Linked DNA regions of Homo sapiens. The main gene of each other region encodes a partner of the protein of the gene in region 2 in a complex. Each region holds a gene or a part of one and is shown on either strand. Other genes may lie near its edges. A codon is read from its position in the direction of its gene.

What was found. The genes of interacting proteins can lie anywhere in the genome.
Region 1: the proteins of NUP35 (region 2) and NUP93 are in contact, whole or in part, in a crystal structure (PDB 7MW1), measured with the Homo sapiens proteins. Residues at the interface, in NP_612142.2 of Homo sapiens: Ala88 (codon at 5,447), Pro89 (codon at 5,444), Pro90 (codon at 5,441), Val91 (codon at 5,438), Arg92 (codon at 5,435), Ser93 (codon at 5,432), Ile94 (codon at 5,429), Tyr95 (codon at 5,426); in NP_055484.3 of Homo sapiens: Tyr266, Tyr269, Asn402 (codon at 6,169), Ala407 (codon at 6,154), Asp408 (codon at 6,151), Lys409 (codon at 6,148), Thr410 (codon at 6,145), Glu411 (codon at 6,142), Tyr413 (codon at 6,136), Tyr448 (codon at 5,744), His452 (codon at 4,906), Phe453 (codon at 4,903), Val455 (codon at 4,897), Asn456 (codon at 4,894), Leu461 (codon at 4,879).

What each region holds. Positions count from the first base shown.
Region 1 is NC_000016.10:56,831,129-56,838,128, reverse strand, and holds part of NUP93 (nuclear pore complex protein Nup93), read right to left. Parts: intron 6,288-7,000; coding exon 6,122-6,287; intron 5,835-6,121; coding exon 5,741-5,834; intron 4,915-5,740; coding exon 4,723-4,914; intron 4,002-4,722; coding exon 3,875-4,001; intron 3,760-3,874; coding exon 3,687-3,759; intron 3,396-3,686; coding exon 3,351-3,395; intron 1,529-3,350; coding exon 1,412-1,528; intron 522-1,411; coding exon 403-521; intron 1-402. UniProt on the Homo sapiens protein: Plays a role in the nuclear pore complex (NPC) assembly and/or maintenance. May anchor nucleoporins, but not NUP153 and TPR, to the NPC. During renal development, regulates podocyte migration and proliferation through SMAD4 signaling.
Region 2 is NC_000002.12:183,127,443-183,135,914, reverse strand, and holds part of NUP35 (nucleoporin NUP35), read right to left. Parts: intron 7,629-8,472; coding exon 7,458-7,628; intron 5,498-7,457; coding exon 5,370-5,497; intron 4,921-5,369; exon of another isoform or gene 4,798-4,920; intron 2,350-4,797; coding exon 2,292-2,349; intron 1-2,291. UniProt on the Homo sapiens protein: Functions as a component of the nuclear pore complex (NPC).

The DNA.
Region 1 (7,000 bases), on a different chromosome or scaffold from region 2:
GTAGTCTGAAACACTGGCCACGACACCTCTAAGAATCTCCCCCATCCAACCATCACTAGCTTTGGTCTTGAATGCCTTTGAGAGGGCTGATGAAAGTATACAACAGTATTTAGGCGAGCATAATGCTTAAAATTAAGCTTTATGTGCATGATTAAAATACTGAGATGCCCTTTCATACCCATTTCTTTGGCAAAAATGTTAAGTTTGATAGTACCAAGTACTAGTTCTGATGCGGGGACAAAGGAACTCACACAGTGCTGGTGGCATGGTGAGTTAGTAGAACCACTTTGGAAAGCTGTCTGCTGTTACCTAGTAAAGCTGAACATGCATTTGGGTGGGCATAGGTGGCCTGGCACTGGCAGTGGCACCCTCAGGGTCCCATGGAGCCAGCTCCTGGCTTACCGTTCGGCAATGGAGAGTGCCATGTTCTTCAGCCTCTCCTTGTTGGATTGCGGGGCACTGATCTGGGGGACGACAGGGCTCAGCAGTTTGTTCATCAGCTCCAGTACCTTGTCAGCATTCTGCTCAAGTTTTTAAAATTAAGGAAGCAATCAATAAAGTAATCAATAAAAGGAACAACTATATAATGCCCCCTACCCACCAAAGAGAACTTTCTGGGGTGACATTTTTTACCGCCTCCCAAGTTCAAGCAATTCTCGTGCCTCAGCCTCCTGAGCAGCTGGGATTACAGGCATGCACCACTATGCCTGACTAATTTTTATATTTTTAGTAGAGACGGGGTTTTGCCATGTTGGCCAGGCTAGTCTCGAACTCCTGGCCTCAAGTGATGCGCCTGCCTTGGCCTCCCAAAGTGCTGGGATTACAGGCGTGAGCCCCTGCACTTGGCCTATAGCTGTTTTTTTGTCTACTTTTCTCAGTTGATAAAGGAGAGAATGTAATCTTGTTTAGGTCATAGAATCCTTAGCAGTTATCATATGTTCTTAGTCATCATTTGTTCTTCGGTAGAAACATGTATTCTAGTCCTCTCAAAACGCCCAGCTAAGGTCTTATTTTCTTTCACTCCTTCCTGCACACTGATGTGGTCTTATTTTCTAACACCACTGTTCCCCAGTGTGTCTGTGGTTGCCAGGGTCAGCATAATGTAATTTTCAACAGTGGCTTCACCATCGAAATGTGATGGATGCTAATTCTGCTGCCAAGTGAGACAACAGTTCAATGCCTGCAGGACATCCTTTCAATATGTTGTTTGGTCAGAAAAATCTTATGGGCAGAAATAATGCTGTAAAATGGGAATTCTGTCCTGACTGGACCATTAACTGTCTAAGCACTAGAGCAAATGCCTCTGCAGGGAGGGTGCTACAACAATGACACTGTCCAAGTGGCTGCACATTTAATGCCAAAAGGCCAGCAGACCTGTGAAGTGCAAAAGAAGGAAGTGGGCACACTTTACCTTGGCAAGGTCATACAGCTTTGCTGCCTCTTCAAACAGTCCTTTATTTTCTGCCACAGAAGCAACTTTGTTGATAATAGGCTTTGTGTCACTAGTAAACTTATCTATGACTCCAGGCTGACAAGACAAATTATGGAGGGGGAGGAAGAGAGAGACGGGTGCACAGAGCTATTATTTTAAACACAGAGAAGCAATTAGGATCCAAAAAATACTTCAAGTGGAATTGCTTGCCCTGGGCAACGCATATATTTCATCAGCCAGACTCTGGCTTTCTTAAAGATATAAAGTCCTATTAAAACTATAAAAGAGACCAAGGAAACTACACATGAAAGGGCAGACTTACTAGAAGCACAGAGGAGTCAGCAATAAGACATCTGTGCTTTCTAATTTTCCAAAATGACCCAGAGAGTCAGTGAAATCAATGATTTTAAATTTGCTGATAAGTAGGAACTAGAGAGAAAAATCAGGAGGCTTAGAAAAAATATCTGAAAAATTTTGGATTTGCTTTCTAAGACAGATGGCAAAAGGAACTCAGTGCTGAAAAAACACACAGCAAGTGGTAACAGGACATTTCTTTTTTTTTTTTTTTGAGACAGAGTCTTGCTCTGTCTCCCAGGCTGGAGTGCAGTGGCGCAATCTCGGCTCACTGCAAGCTCTGCCTCCCAGGTTCACACCATTCTCCTGCCTCAGCCTCCCGAGCACCTGGGACTACAGGTACCCACCACCACGCCTGGCTAATTTTTTTGTATTTTTAATAGAGACAGGGTTTCACCGTGTTAGCCAGGATGGTCTCGATCTCCTGACCTCATGATCCACCCGCCTCGGCCTCCCAAAGTGCTGGGATTACAGGCGTGAGCCACCGCGCCCGGCTGGTAACAGGACATTTCTTAAAAAAAAATCACCATCACCACTCAACAGCAACTAAATGGTCAGGAGAGCATGAGAGAGGCCTTAGGCACCCTGGGAGAATGAAGGCAAGTGCATAACATCTCTGCCTGGCCATTCTGCTTCTCCACTAGCGCTGGACTCTCAGGGCTAGACCAGGTCAAGGTGGCTGGACCAGGTTGAGGTGACTTGCCCTGCCACTTGGGAGGTAGCAGAGGATAAGGTCTTATCTATGTTTCTAGCTCTGTCAACTCACATACAGTAGGAGCCTCCTGGCCCCAGTGCAGCCTGTTAAAGAAGAAACTATGCAAAGCACTCAGCACAATGCCTGTTGATTGTCACTGCCCAATAAGCAAGGCCACTGTCATCAGCACTGTCACTTGCCTTTCTTCTGAGGTAGATGGTGTGAGCAGTGTGAGCTCATCTACAGATTGCTGGGTCCAAATCACTCATTTTTACAAACGAGAAAACTCAGCCCCTGAGGGACAAGTGACTTTCCAAGGGCCACAGGGAGATTCAGGGTCATGACTGGTCTCTGACAACAGGATCTCTGACCCTCCTGCCATGACAACCAATGGGCATAGTGAGTCCTGAAATCCCTCAAGCTTCCAGAAGTATTTCCAGGGTCACTGTGGAGTTCAAAGCCCTTGGAAACTGCATTTTGAAGGAGGTCAAGTGCATGTCTAACTTTCCCATCTTGGGAGAATGGGTGCAGTAATCAATTTCTTTTCCTTGCATGTTTTCTGAGCCAAGAATGGCAGAAATGTATAATAGCATTCTCAGCTCAAAAAATGACAGGCATGAACAAATGAATATTCTGAACATAATAAAAAAGCTATGTAATCACAAATTAACATATTTTAAGGAGATATAAGTGTGTGTAAAACCAAGGTCATCATTTGGGCCCATAATTTTCATTCCATTTTTTAAATTAAGCAACTCTGTTCAGATTTGCATCTTTAGTACCTTGAATCTTAAAATCTAAGTGTATTTTTTGATATTTATAAATCCCCAATGGCTAACGAACATTTCTCTAAGGATGCATTTAACTCACCTTTCTACTTCCGTCATTCTCTAGTTTCCCAAGAATCATATCGAACTGTGGAAGGAAAAAAGTTTACTCAAATTATTGGACAAAGATATAAACATATTCCATAAGTCTTCAGAGAAAAAAGAGGGGAATCAAATGGGATGAATGGGATAAGTCTTAGGCAAACTAAAAATCAGTGTGACTGAAATAAATATTTTCATTGTTAGAAACCAAAGAAACTCCAAAAACTCCCTAGGCCTTATCCACCACAACCATATTGAAGTAAACACGCAATACGGAATGAGCATGGGACATGCACACTGAAAACCATGGGGAGGAGAGAAAAGGAAACCCACTCACCTCTCGGCTTTCAATCACAAGCTCACTCACACAGCGCAGAAACATGTTTTCTCCTTGACTATCTTTCTCATCCCTGTAAGGGAAATAAACAACTCAGTTTCCAGTCTGGACATGAGGTCTCTAATAGTCATTCTCAGAATGGCAGAAATTGAAACTAGCTGAAGTAAATGGTCAAAAGCAAATGTTACCTGAGGAAATAGAAGTACTGGAGGGCCTCCCTTGGGTCCGTGGACTCAAACTTCCGGGTGTACAGCATGAGGAGCCGCACGAAGTTCAGCCGCCGCAAGCAAGGAGGGTCACCAGGCTCGTGGCTGACTGCATTGTGGGGGTCAGAATGGGTCACAACCACACTGCCCCTCTGACCCATGCAACCCAGAAACTATGGAAGCTGAATCCACAGACCCAGCAGCATCTACTCCTGCAGCCCAGTCAAAGTTTGCTAATATAAGCTTTGGCCAGTCCCTTTTACCATCCTATCCTCAATTCATCCCCAGGCCCAGAGTGGAGAAAACAGCACTTTGCCATAAATTACTAATATGCTGGTCTTTGAGTGAAAACATAATCCAACTGACGATTATGGCATGTGCTCTGGGATGACTTTGCTGCAACAATAAGGAACCTGCAGCCATTCATCCACATTTACTTCCTCTCTCTCCCCTGACTCTCTCATCCCAGGCAGGTATGCACATGCCTGGCTGGGGTTTCCAATGTCATTAAAGCCAGCCCTAATGGGAATCAGACCCATAACTCTAGGGGCTGCTTCTTCAGCATTTTCCAGGCAATCAGACTGGCCACAAAGCTAGTACTTTGAACATCACTTTATATACTTAACTTTCAAGGGAATACTAATGCTGGGGGGTGGGGGGGAAGCAGGAACCCTTAACACTAATCATCTAAAAAGCTCAACTGTCCACATGCTCTAAAATGACTGGTACCCTTTGCTCAAATCCTTATTGGTTGTGGTTTTGTGGCCACCGTCGCCCCAAGGGGGACGTGCTGTGGTTACATTACTGTCAATCCAATCCCAAATACTCACGGAGCTGAGCACTCTGTCCAGAGGACTTTAAAAGCAGCTTCAGCTCAAACAGCACCAGTGCTACATGGACAGCATGGCAGCGCAGCCGCTCCATGCGGAAAAGAAAGGCAACTGCTGCTTCAAACTGCGCTGTCAGGAACAGGACTTGGAAGTAGAGGAAGGGTTGCTGGTTCACCGTAAAGTGGGACTCGCCTGGGAGAGAGGAGAGGAGAGGAGATAAAACCAACTTAGAAAGAAGGGGCTCACTGGTGGCCCAACCCCCAGGCAGCAGCCCTGTGAGCCCACAGGACTTGCTGGACAGGAAGAAAGCACCAGATTGAGTCTGAATTGATCAAGGGGGCCCTGAATACAGTAAACTGCCATGTGAAATGTGACCTGGCTCCTCCACCTTCTCTAGACCTCATAACATTACTGGAAACTGTGACTGTGCTGTAAAACTCCAACTGCTTGCATTAGGTGGGAGAGAAACAGAGCTAAGGACCTTAAAATGGACCACAGAGAGTGTTTATCTCCTTTACCCTGTTAAGTCACTCAAGGAGAGAAATGAAGATTTCAAAGGAGTTTCAGTTTACTCACAGTCACAGAAATCTGAATGCAACAACTGGTAACCACTATTTGGAATCTTCTTTTCTTCTCAGTTTTTAAAAAATACGGGAAAAAAGAAGAAAGGCTGTTTCTCTCTCCTTTGTGCTCAGATCTAGTGACTGGTACGATCGACTAGGAAGCAACAGCTAAGTCTTCTTTTTCTCTCCCTGAGCATATGTCTACTAGAACAGTTCAAAGAATTAGAGAAAACAGATTATTGTGTATGACCATATAAGTTTTATGTATTTCTTAAGGCCACATGCCCTTTATTTGAATTTGGAATGGTAGTTTTGTTGTGTTTTGCCTTGACAATCTATAGGAGTTTTGGAAGAAAGACAAAAGTTCAGAGATGAAAAATTTTCCCAGAGGAAAACTGAAGTAGTCACCTTAAGTGGACAAGAGAAGGGAAAGGTGGTTATGTCCAGAATCTTACCATAGTCTTCCAACAACTGCTTCTGGAACTGTGAGAGAGTGAGCCTGTCTTGTGGGGAGCTGGTGCCATCGTCGTCAAAACACACTTGGTTCAACTAAATCCCCAAGAGAAACACATGCATTGGTACAAATGACACCCTGAGCCACATGCACAGAGTTGTAGCTGTTCAGCAGCCATGCTCAATGATGTCAGCTAGAAGCTGTGTTTAAGGCTATGGTTATGAGCTGGGAATTACACAACAAAAAATGGGGACAGGAGACGAGGAACCCACTGGTCCTGATCACTGTATTGGCATCATACATTAAGCAGGTAAAATCTTTGCGGGGACTTGAGCACAGAAAAGGGGTAAAGCCCTATGTGGGCAGGGGAAACAGTGCCTACCTTCAGCCACAGGTAATCCTCAGTTTTGTCCGCCACTTCACTCTGGTTGTCGGTGACGTCACATCTGCCAATGATACAGTACACGGCCCGCTTGTAGGGATCTGTATTGTTCCTGAGGGCCCTACGGTAATGCAGCCGGAGCTTGTTTTCCGTAGCTGGGGACAATCTACAGACATAAGGGAACAGACAGATAGATACATACTCAATAAAAATCCTCAAGGGCATCTGAAAGCGTCCCAGGTCCCAAACACATAAAAGCAGGGAAGCCTTCCTTCATCCGGGGTAAGAGACACTGTCTCTGCCCCATCCCCTCCCCTCGGTACCATCGCTTTAACCTGACTTGCAACTACCTGCACCTGTATCTATTGGCCTGCCGGTTTTCTATTTGCTGAGGCCTTCATGGGCAGGTGAGAAATGCCAGGGAATTAGAACTCCATTGCACAACCCAGCAGCACTCAAGCAGTGATGGACAGGAGTGAATCCTTCCCTTAACTGTCTTAGCCCCTCCCTGGCCTCCACACTCCCTTATTCATGTGAGATCACCTCCTAAATAAACAACTTGCACTCAAATCTCCTTCTGGGGGAACCTTAAGACATTAACCCTACTTTAAATTCTAACATGAGCAAGACAGGGGCTTCTGGTTTGAGGCAATCTCTTGATATGACATTAGTAATGCTGCCAAGAAAAGTATCCTAGTTTTTCACAAGTACAGCTACAGTAACCGCCATCATTTCTTCTACATACATGTACATATATATAACCTCAGTTTGAGTATGAGCTTAAGTCCAATTACATTAGCAAAATCCAAGGAAAATTAATGCTTAGCAGTTCCTTAATGCAAGAGAACTTAAAGACTTAATGAATCAATTCAATGATTA
Region 2 (8,472 bases):
GGTTAGTTTTTTTGCGTGCTTTTTTTTTTAAATTTTTATTTACTTTTTTCTTGAGATAGGGTCTTGTTCTGTCACCCAAGCTGGAGTGCAGTGACAAAATCAGCTCCCTTGCAACCTCGAATTCCTGGGCTCAAGCAATCCTCCTGCCTCAGCCTTCCGAGTAGCTGGAACTACAGGCACATGCCTGATTTGCTTAGTTTAAAATCTACTGTCTTGCTATTGTTTCTTATGTTCCATCTTTCCCTGTTATTGTATTATTTCCCTTCTTGCCTGCCTACTTTTTCTATCACTATCATCTCTCACCTAGATTGCTACAAGTAGCCTCCTAACTTGTCTCCTTGCTTCTAAGCTAACTTTTACTCCCAAACTAGTTGAACCCAGCAACAGTCTCATCCTTATTGTCTTCCACCTTTTCTGGGTAAAGACCAATTGTGACAATAACCTACAGGGCCATGTAATACATCTGCCCCCATTACCTCTCCTCTCTGACCTCATTTTCCACTATTCTCCCCCTCACTTACTCCATTTCAGTCACCATCCCCTTATTCTTCCTTGAACACCCCAGACACACTGTTCCCTCCGTCTAGAATACTATTCCCTACCTCCCTCACTTACAGACTTTTGAGTAAAGTTTACTTGCCCCCTAACTATCAGTGGTAGGTGGAATAAGCTGGGTAGGTCCCCAAATGATGTCCATGACCTAATCCCTGGAACCTGTGAATGTTACATTACATGGCAAAGGGAATTAAGGTTGCAGGTGGAATTAACCCTGCTAATCAACTGACCTTAAAATACAAAGATTATCCTAGATTATCTAGAAGGGCCCAATGTATTCACAAGGGTCTTTAAAAGAGAGAGGGAGATATGACTACAGAAGAATGGTCAAAGAGTTACAAAGTTGCTGACTGTGAAGATGGAGGAAGGGAACCATAAGCCAAGAAACATTAAGTAGCCTCTAGAAATGGAAAAGGCAAGAAAATAGATTATTGCCAGCTGGGCGCGGTGGCTCAAGCCTTTAATCCCAGCACTTTGGGAGGCCGAGGTGGGTAGATCACAAGGTCAGGAGTTCGAGACCAGCCTGGCCAAGACGGTGACACCCCATCTCTACCAAAAATACAAAAAAAAAAAAAAATTAGCCAGGCGCAGTGGCGAGCACCTGTAATCCCAGCTACCCGGGAGGCTGAGGCAGGAGAATCACTTGAACCCAGGAGGTGGAGGTTGCAGTGAGCCGAGATGGTGCCACTGCACTCTAACCTGGGCGACAGACCAAGACTCCATCTCAAAAAAAAAAAGAAAAATAGATTTTTGTCTAGAACCTCCATAAATGAACACAGCCCTACCAATGTCTAGATTTTAGCCCACCAAGACCCATTTCAAACTTCCGACCTCCAGAAATGAAAGATAATGAATGTGTATTGTTTAAGCCACTTTTATGTTTGTGGTAGTTTGTTATGGCAGCAACAGAAAACTAATACATTACCCTATTTAAAACTCTAAGTCTCTACCCCCTCCCCCCCTTTGCTGCTTAATTTTTTCCTCCACAAAATGTAATACCTTCTAACAAATGTTATAATTTACTTGTTTTGTTTATAAATGTAAATTCTGCAAATAAATGTAAGTTCCATAAAGGCAGGGAATATCTATTTTGTTTACTATTTCCCAGAGTACACAGTTAGGTGCTCAAATATTTGCTGAATAAACATTTGATGGGATTATACACATATGACGACATATGAAGAACTGTGCTAAGCATAATGATGATTATTAAAAAGCCATTAATCTTAAAGAAAAACTAGGTATATAATCAGTGGTTGCTTCTATTCAACGGCATTTAGATTTATAACTATGCATTAACATCTCTCAAAACACCTTTATTATTCAGTGTCTTAACTATTCCTTTTCATCCCAATTCCAATGGCTTTTTTATTGACAAGTTTTAATAACTAAGGAGATACTTCAAACATCTATTAAGTATACAATTTCTTAAAAAGACATTCTGAATATTCACCCCACCATACCTTTAGGGTGATTTGATTCAGAAAATAATCAATATACAAAGTATTTCCTTCCTGAAAGAAGTTATAGATTTTGGAAAATCTCCAAGTTTGAAATATAAAATAAAAAATTTTGGCAGTTACCAACAAACATTTTATATTAAATTCATTCGAAGAATAGAGAAGTATTTGGTGTCAGAGTTGTTTACTCCGTGATCACACCACTGCACTCCAGCGTGGGTAGCAGAGCCAGACCCTGTCTTTTAAAAAAAAAAAAAAAAAGAAAGAATCACTTACCTGTTCCAGGAGTAGATGTAACTCCAACAAGAGGACTCTGCATTACTGAAATGTTTGGCTACACAAACAGAAGAAAGTGTTATGGTAAAAATGCAAAACATAAATACAGTAAGTGTTAAAAGGCTTCATTCAATGGATAACTGAATTTTTATCATGTGCTAGAGATGCCTCTAATTAGCTCAAAGTACAAAGGCACTCTTTTTTCCCCATAAGTTAAACAGTATTAACCTAAAATTTACTAGATCCCTTAGTATTTGTTTAAAATAAGAAAAGTCATATTATGTTAAAAAAAAAAAAAAAGACTATCTTCTGTAAAAGGTGACATGTTAACTATTTGTTTTTAGTTTCTAATGTACAATATTTGAAATAACAGAGATAATGGTAATTTTTAAAATGACCAGGTTCATACAGAAAAACAGAAGGGTGACAAAATTTGATTTTCAACAGATACTTAGAAACCATGAAACACTATAGATTCAAATCAGTCTAAACAATAAAAGACAGCATATCCCTACCACTACCAGTAGAAAGTTCCAAAACTGGTAAATTATCCATTTTAGTTCCTTTAAATATAAGAAAATTAAGGATTAAAATAGTTTAAAATCCTTCTAAAACAAAGACAATATCCAATCAATAAATGAGAACAGAATCTCTCTAGAACTCAATAAAGATTTTTTAAAACAGATTCTAATTAAACTAAGGAAATCTCAAATAGCTTCATTTAGCAACCAGAACTAAATGCTGAGAGAATGTTGGGAGAGATATAAAATTTATTCCTCAATTATTAATGCCAATTCTTTCATGATTAGAAAGCAAACTGAGCAAATTCCAGGGGGCATAACTAATTTGGGCTCTAATCTAGCAATAATATTCTTACCAACTTTCAAATCAAAAACATTCTCTATAAATTATGACCCACGAGTCTTTCAAACATTTTGAATACAGCAATATCTGTAAGCCTTTGTCTGTATCATCAGAGAAGTAATAAAACCTTGCACAAATTTAGAAGCCAGTGGTTCTTGCAACAAACAATTTTTTAATTTTTTAGTTTTTATTATTTTATTTTTGAGACAGGGTCTCACTCTGTCACCCAGGCTGAGTGCAGTAACACGATCACAGCCCACTGTAGCCTGAGCTTCCCAGGCTCAAGCAATCGTCCCACCTCAGCCTTCTGAGTACCTGGGACTATAGGTACACACCACCACATCTAGCCTTTTTTTTTTTGTATTTTCAGTAGAGACAAGAGTTTCGCCATGTAGCCCAAGCTGATCTCAAACTCATGGGTTCAAGCAATCTGCCCAAAGCCCAGCACAGTGGGTCACACCTGTAATCCCAGCACTTTTGAAGGCCAAGGAAGGTGGATTACTTGAGCTCAGGAGTTCAAGACCACCCTGGGCAACAGGACAAATCCCATCTCTACAAAAAATACAAAAGTTAGCCAGGCATGGTGGTCCACATCTGTAGTCCCTGCTACTAGGGAGAAGAGGTGGGAGGATCACTTGAGCCCAGGATGTCGAGGCTACAGTGGGGCATGACCATTTCACTGCACTCTAGTCTGGGTGATAGAGCAAGACCCTGTCTCAAAAAATAATAATAATAAATAAAAATACATAAAAATCAAGCAATCCGCCCACCTCGGCCTCCCAAAGTGCTGGGATTACAGGCATGCACCAACACGCCCAGCCTTCATACCAAACTAATCATAAGCTTTACTTATCAACCTTTAGAAAACCATCCCAGACCAGGATATCTATCCATTAGGAACAATAAATTCCATACGTGTAATTTTACCATTTCTAGTAGGCACATTTTAAAAGTACAAACAGGTGAAATTTAGTAATATTTAGCCAAACACATCCAAAACATTATCATTTCAATATGTAATCAACATAAAAAAATAAGATACCTTACATTCTTTCTAAGTCTTCAAACTCTGGTGTGTATTTTATACTTAAAGTGTATCTCAATAAAGACTAGCTATATCTTTAGTATCAATAGCCACACTTAGCTAGTGGCTCCTGTTGGACAGGAAGGCAGGTCTAGAAGTGTTGGGAAGAAACAGTAATCTGTTTACCACAGTGAATGAATTTTGCTTTACTTGACAAGTAAGCCTAGTATGCCAGACATATCAAGCCTATAAATAGCACGAATCCACTGAAAAATGCTTTCTAATATTCTTGAACTCTCAACTTCACTAAATACAATTTAGGGAAAGGCATAAAACATATATCTAAAGCAAACAGCAGACATATCTTTATATAAAGAACTTACCAACTTAACTGATAAACTTTGTTTATATGTCCTACTAAGCACAATAATAATAGGAAACAACACTTGTGTCTATGAAGCTACTAAATTTTCTACTTAAAAGAAAAGTCGGCCAGGCACAGTGGCTCACATTTATAATCTAGCGCTTTGAGAGGTCAAGGTGCAAGGATCACCTGAATCCGGCAAGACCTCATCTCTACAAAAAAAAATACAATTAGCCAGGCATAGCAGCACGTGCCTATATCCCAATAGGACAGTTGAGGCAGGAGGATTGGTTGAACCCAGGAGTTCAAGGCTGCAGAGTTATGACTGTGCCGCTGCACTCTAGCCTGGGCAACTGATCAGGACCCTGTTGGGGACCCTAAAAAAAGAAGAAAATAAAGACAAGTCCATACTACTTCTCAGCTGACGAGTGCCCTAGATCTAGATGAAACTCTAAATTTTCATTTGTTCTTTCACATAATTTTTAAATATTAAATATTAAACTTCTTAAACAATCAGAATGATTTAAACCATAGTCACATTCTACATGTATATTAAGTAGGTTGGAGCTATGGGCAGGTGGATAAGGCATACCTATAAACACCTGAGAATTACCTATGAGAGAAAATCTAGAGTTCTACACTGTTAAGTACAGTTCATCATCAACACAATTTAAGTAGATTCTATGATGTGTTTAATGTTTATTCTGTGCAACACAGTTACATTAAAACAGACTTCAGGGAAACATTTCAAAGTATTGACTCTCACTGAACAGACACATAAAACCATGATGTTGTTCATTGGGGATCAAAAGGGTATTTATATTACCTGTCTTCTTGAAGTTAAAGGTGTTGATCCAAGTCCTGGGCTAGAAATGTCATCATATATACTTCTAACTGGTGGAGCGCCACTTTTATCTTTATGAGCTGGTACAACTGGTTGTGGTGGTGACCCACCTACAGTGTACAAAAAAAAAAAAAAAAAAAGGGATTCTTCTTTTTGGTAAGATTTTTTAAATTTATATTTTTGAAATACTGACTTAAAATCTTGTCTGTTAGTTCTTTTCAAACTTTAATATGCTGAACAGTCACCTGGGGACCTTGTTAAAATTCAGACTCTGATTCAGAAGGTGTAGGGTGAAGCCTGAGATTATACAGTTCTAATAAGCTCCCAGGTAATGCCAATGCTGCTGATCCATAGACTGCACTCTGAATAAAAGGATTCAGAGTAAGTAGTTAATGAAAATCTTAGTTTTCAGAAAACACATGTAACTTTTGCTCACTCTACAAAACGCTTAACATTTAAATACAAAACTTGATCCCATTTCTCACTTGAAAGTAGGTACTAAACAGCTCCAGTCTGTAGATTCCTGAATAAATACAATTCCCTATGTAGAGTTTGACTATCTAGATTAAGTAGATCCCATTCATGTTTCTCACAGTAGAAATATATTTAAGTACATAATAAAGATGTAGTAAAAGGACCAAGTTCTGTGACATAAAGATGTCTTTATCGATCAGAGAACATGCAATGTCAAATAGTGATGCAGCCCAGGCCATCGGTAAGACTAATGTCTGAGCCTGGACTGTACAGCTTAAGCTATTTAGAGCACAGTCTATGGAATAAGACTAACCTGAGGTTTATAGCGCTCGCTCACTTACTAGCAAGTGAGCTTCAGCAAATTACTTATTGCATTTAGCCTCAGTTTTCTCTTTTTAAAGATGGGGATACTATTACCTACCCTTTAAGATTGACAAAATAATGATTAGCATACTGCCAGGCTCATAAGCAATCAATATACGTTGGCTACCATAATAAAATAACACATTTGAAATTTAATGTTTAATGTTAAATGAATTACTTCAAATATAATTTATAATTCTCCCTGATAAATCCTAAATAATAAACCATTTTAAAGCAAAAATACTTTAAAGGGCAATTAAGGTAAAAAGAGTTTTCACTTGAACTACTACTAAAGGATATTAGCTCACAATTAGAATTCAACACTTCTGTATCTAATTCTCACTACTCAGTTAAAACTTCGAAGTCATTTTTTAAAGTATTTCTTTGCTAAAGGAGTTCTGTAATAAACACAGGCTGCATTTACAATACTTTGCCCTGACAATCACAAATTCTGTGTATAAAACCTCCCCCCCAAGTTTCCTTAAACACGCTATATGTGAGAATCTCAATTCACTAAGACTAAAGGCAGAATTCGTATCTACATCTTCAAGTTACACTTCTTTTGACCGATTATTTCCTATTCTTGTATCTTAAGATGAATTACTTTAAATGAATTCAGTTGAAGCTAAATGATGGTATTTCATCAACTCTGTGAGGCACTCTTCCCCCACCACACTCTGACATCTCCGACACAGAAATTTTACAAAAAATGGCATCTTAGCATTGTGTCATATTTAGGGTTATCTTTCCTAGTGGTACTTAAAAGCCAATTCAAAGGCATCTTAGAATGAAAAAAACATAGAATACATTTTAGTGGCTCTAGAAATTATAGCTTATACTTCTTACACCTCTATTCCAAGAGCCTTAAAAGCTTTGCTTTATAATAGACACATTGCTTAATTTTTTTTAATTAATGTATTGATGAGGGTGAATGCTGCACCACTACACTTTTAAAAATTCTAGCACAAGCTTGTCCCACCCATGGCTTGAACACCGCATGAAGCCCAGGATGGCTTTGAATGTTGCCCAACACAAATTGGTAAACTTTCTTAAAACATTTTAAGATTTTTTTTGCATTTTTTTTTTTTTTTAGCTCATCAGCTATTATTAGAGTTACTGTATTTTATGTGTGGCCCAAGTCAATTCTTCTTCCAATGTGGTTCAGGGAAGCCAAAAAATTGGACATCCCTGTATCTAGCATGTCTATAAAATTATTTTAAGCAATTCACCTACCTGCAAGTAAAGGTGATCTCATTTCCATTACTCCTACTGAAGGGCCACTAATTGATCGAGGTTGTGGAGTCACCGGAGCTGGCAAATCCCCCATTAAAAATCCAGGTAAGAACTGGGCATTAACTCCTGGCTTTGGAGATGTGGGTGAACCCAGCATCATTGGTTCAGATCCTACATGAATCAAAAAATAAATTAAGGACTTTTCTGTTACAGTTTCTGTTACATGTTGATGACAAAAACATGCAAGAATCTAACATAATTTTGCAAATTTAATCAAAACTTTTAGATATAATAGAACCATAGTTGAATTTATTATTTTAAAAGCCAACAAAAAATATTTCTAGAAAAATGTAAAGTTATCTTGTATTCACTTTTTTTTTTTTTCTGAGTCCGAGTCTCACTCTGTCACCAGGCTGGAGTGCAGTGGCGCAATCTCAGCTCACTGCAACCTTCACCTCCTAGGCTCAAGCGATCCTCCCTCCTCAGCCTCTCAGTAGCTAAGTCTACAGGCCTGCACCACCACGCCCAGCTAATTTTTGTATTTTTTTGCAGAAATGGGGTTTCACCATGCTGCCCAGACTGCTCTGGAGCTCCTGAGCTCAGGTGATCCACCAGCCTTGGCCTCCCAAAGTGCTGAGATTAAAGGTGTGAAGCCAGTACACCTGGCAGCACAATATTTATCTGTGACAGCTATTTTTGTTTACATTATTTCAGGGGTTTAAAAATCACACTAATAACTTCTTTCCATTTCCGAATCAGTTTGGACTATGTAACAACCAAAAACAAGGACAGGCTGCACTACTTATACATACAAAGCTTAGCATATCAAACACAATGGGTTAAGCTTGCTAAATTGTTTCTTTTTCTTCCCCATAAAAAGTTCATCATTATTGTGATAAAACCGTAACCATGCATATATTAGAGCACTTACAAAATAACAGTGATAACTAGCACCCTAACTCAGAAACATGTTGAAAAGAGTCGAAAACTTATTTTTGTATCTTTTTTCTTAATC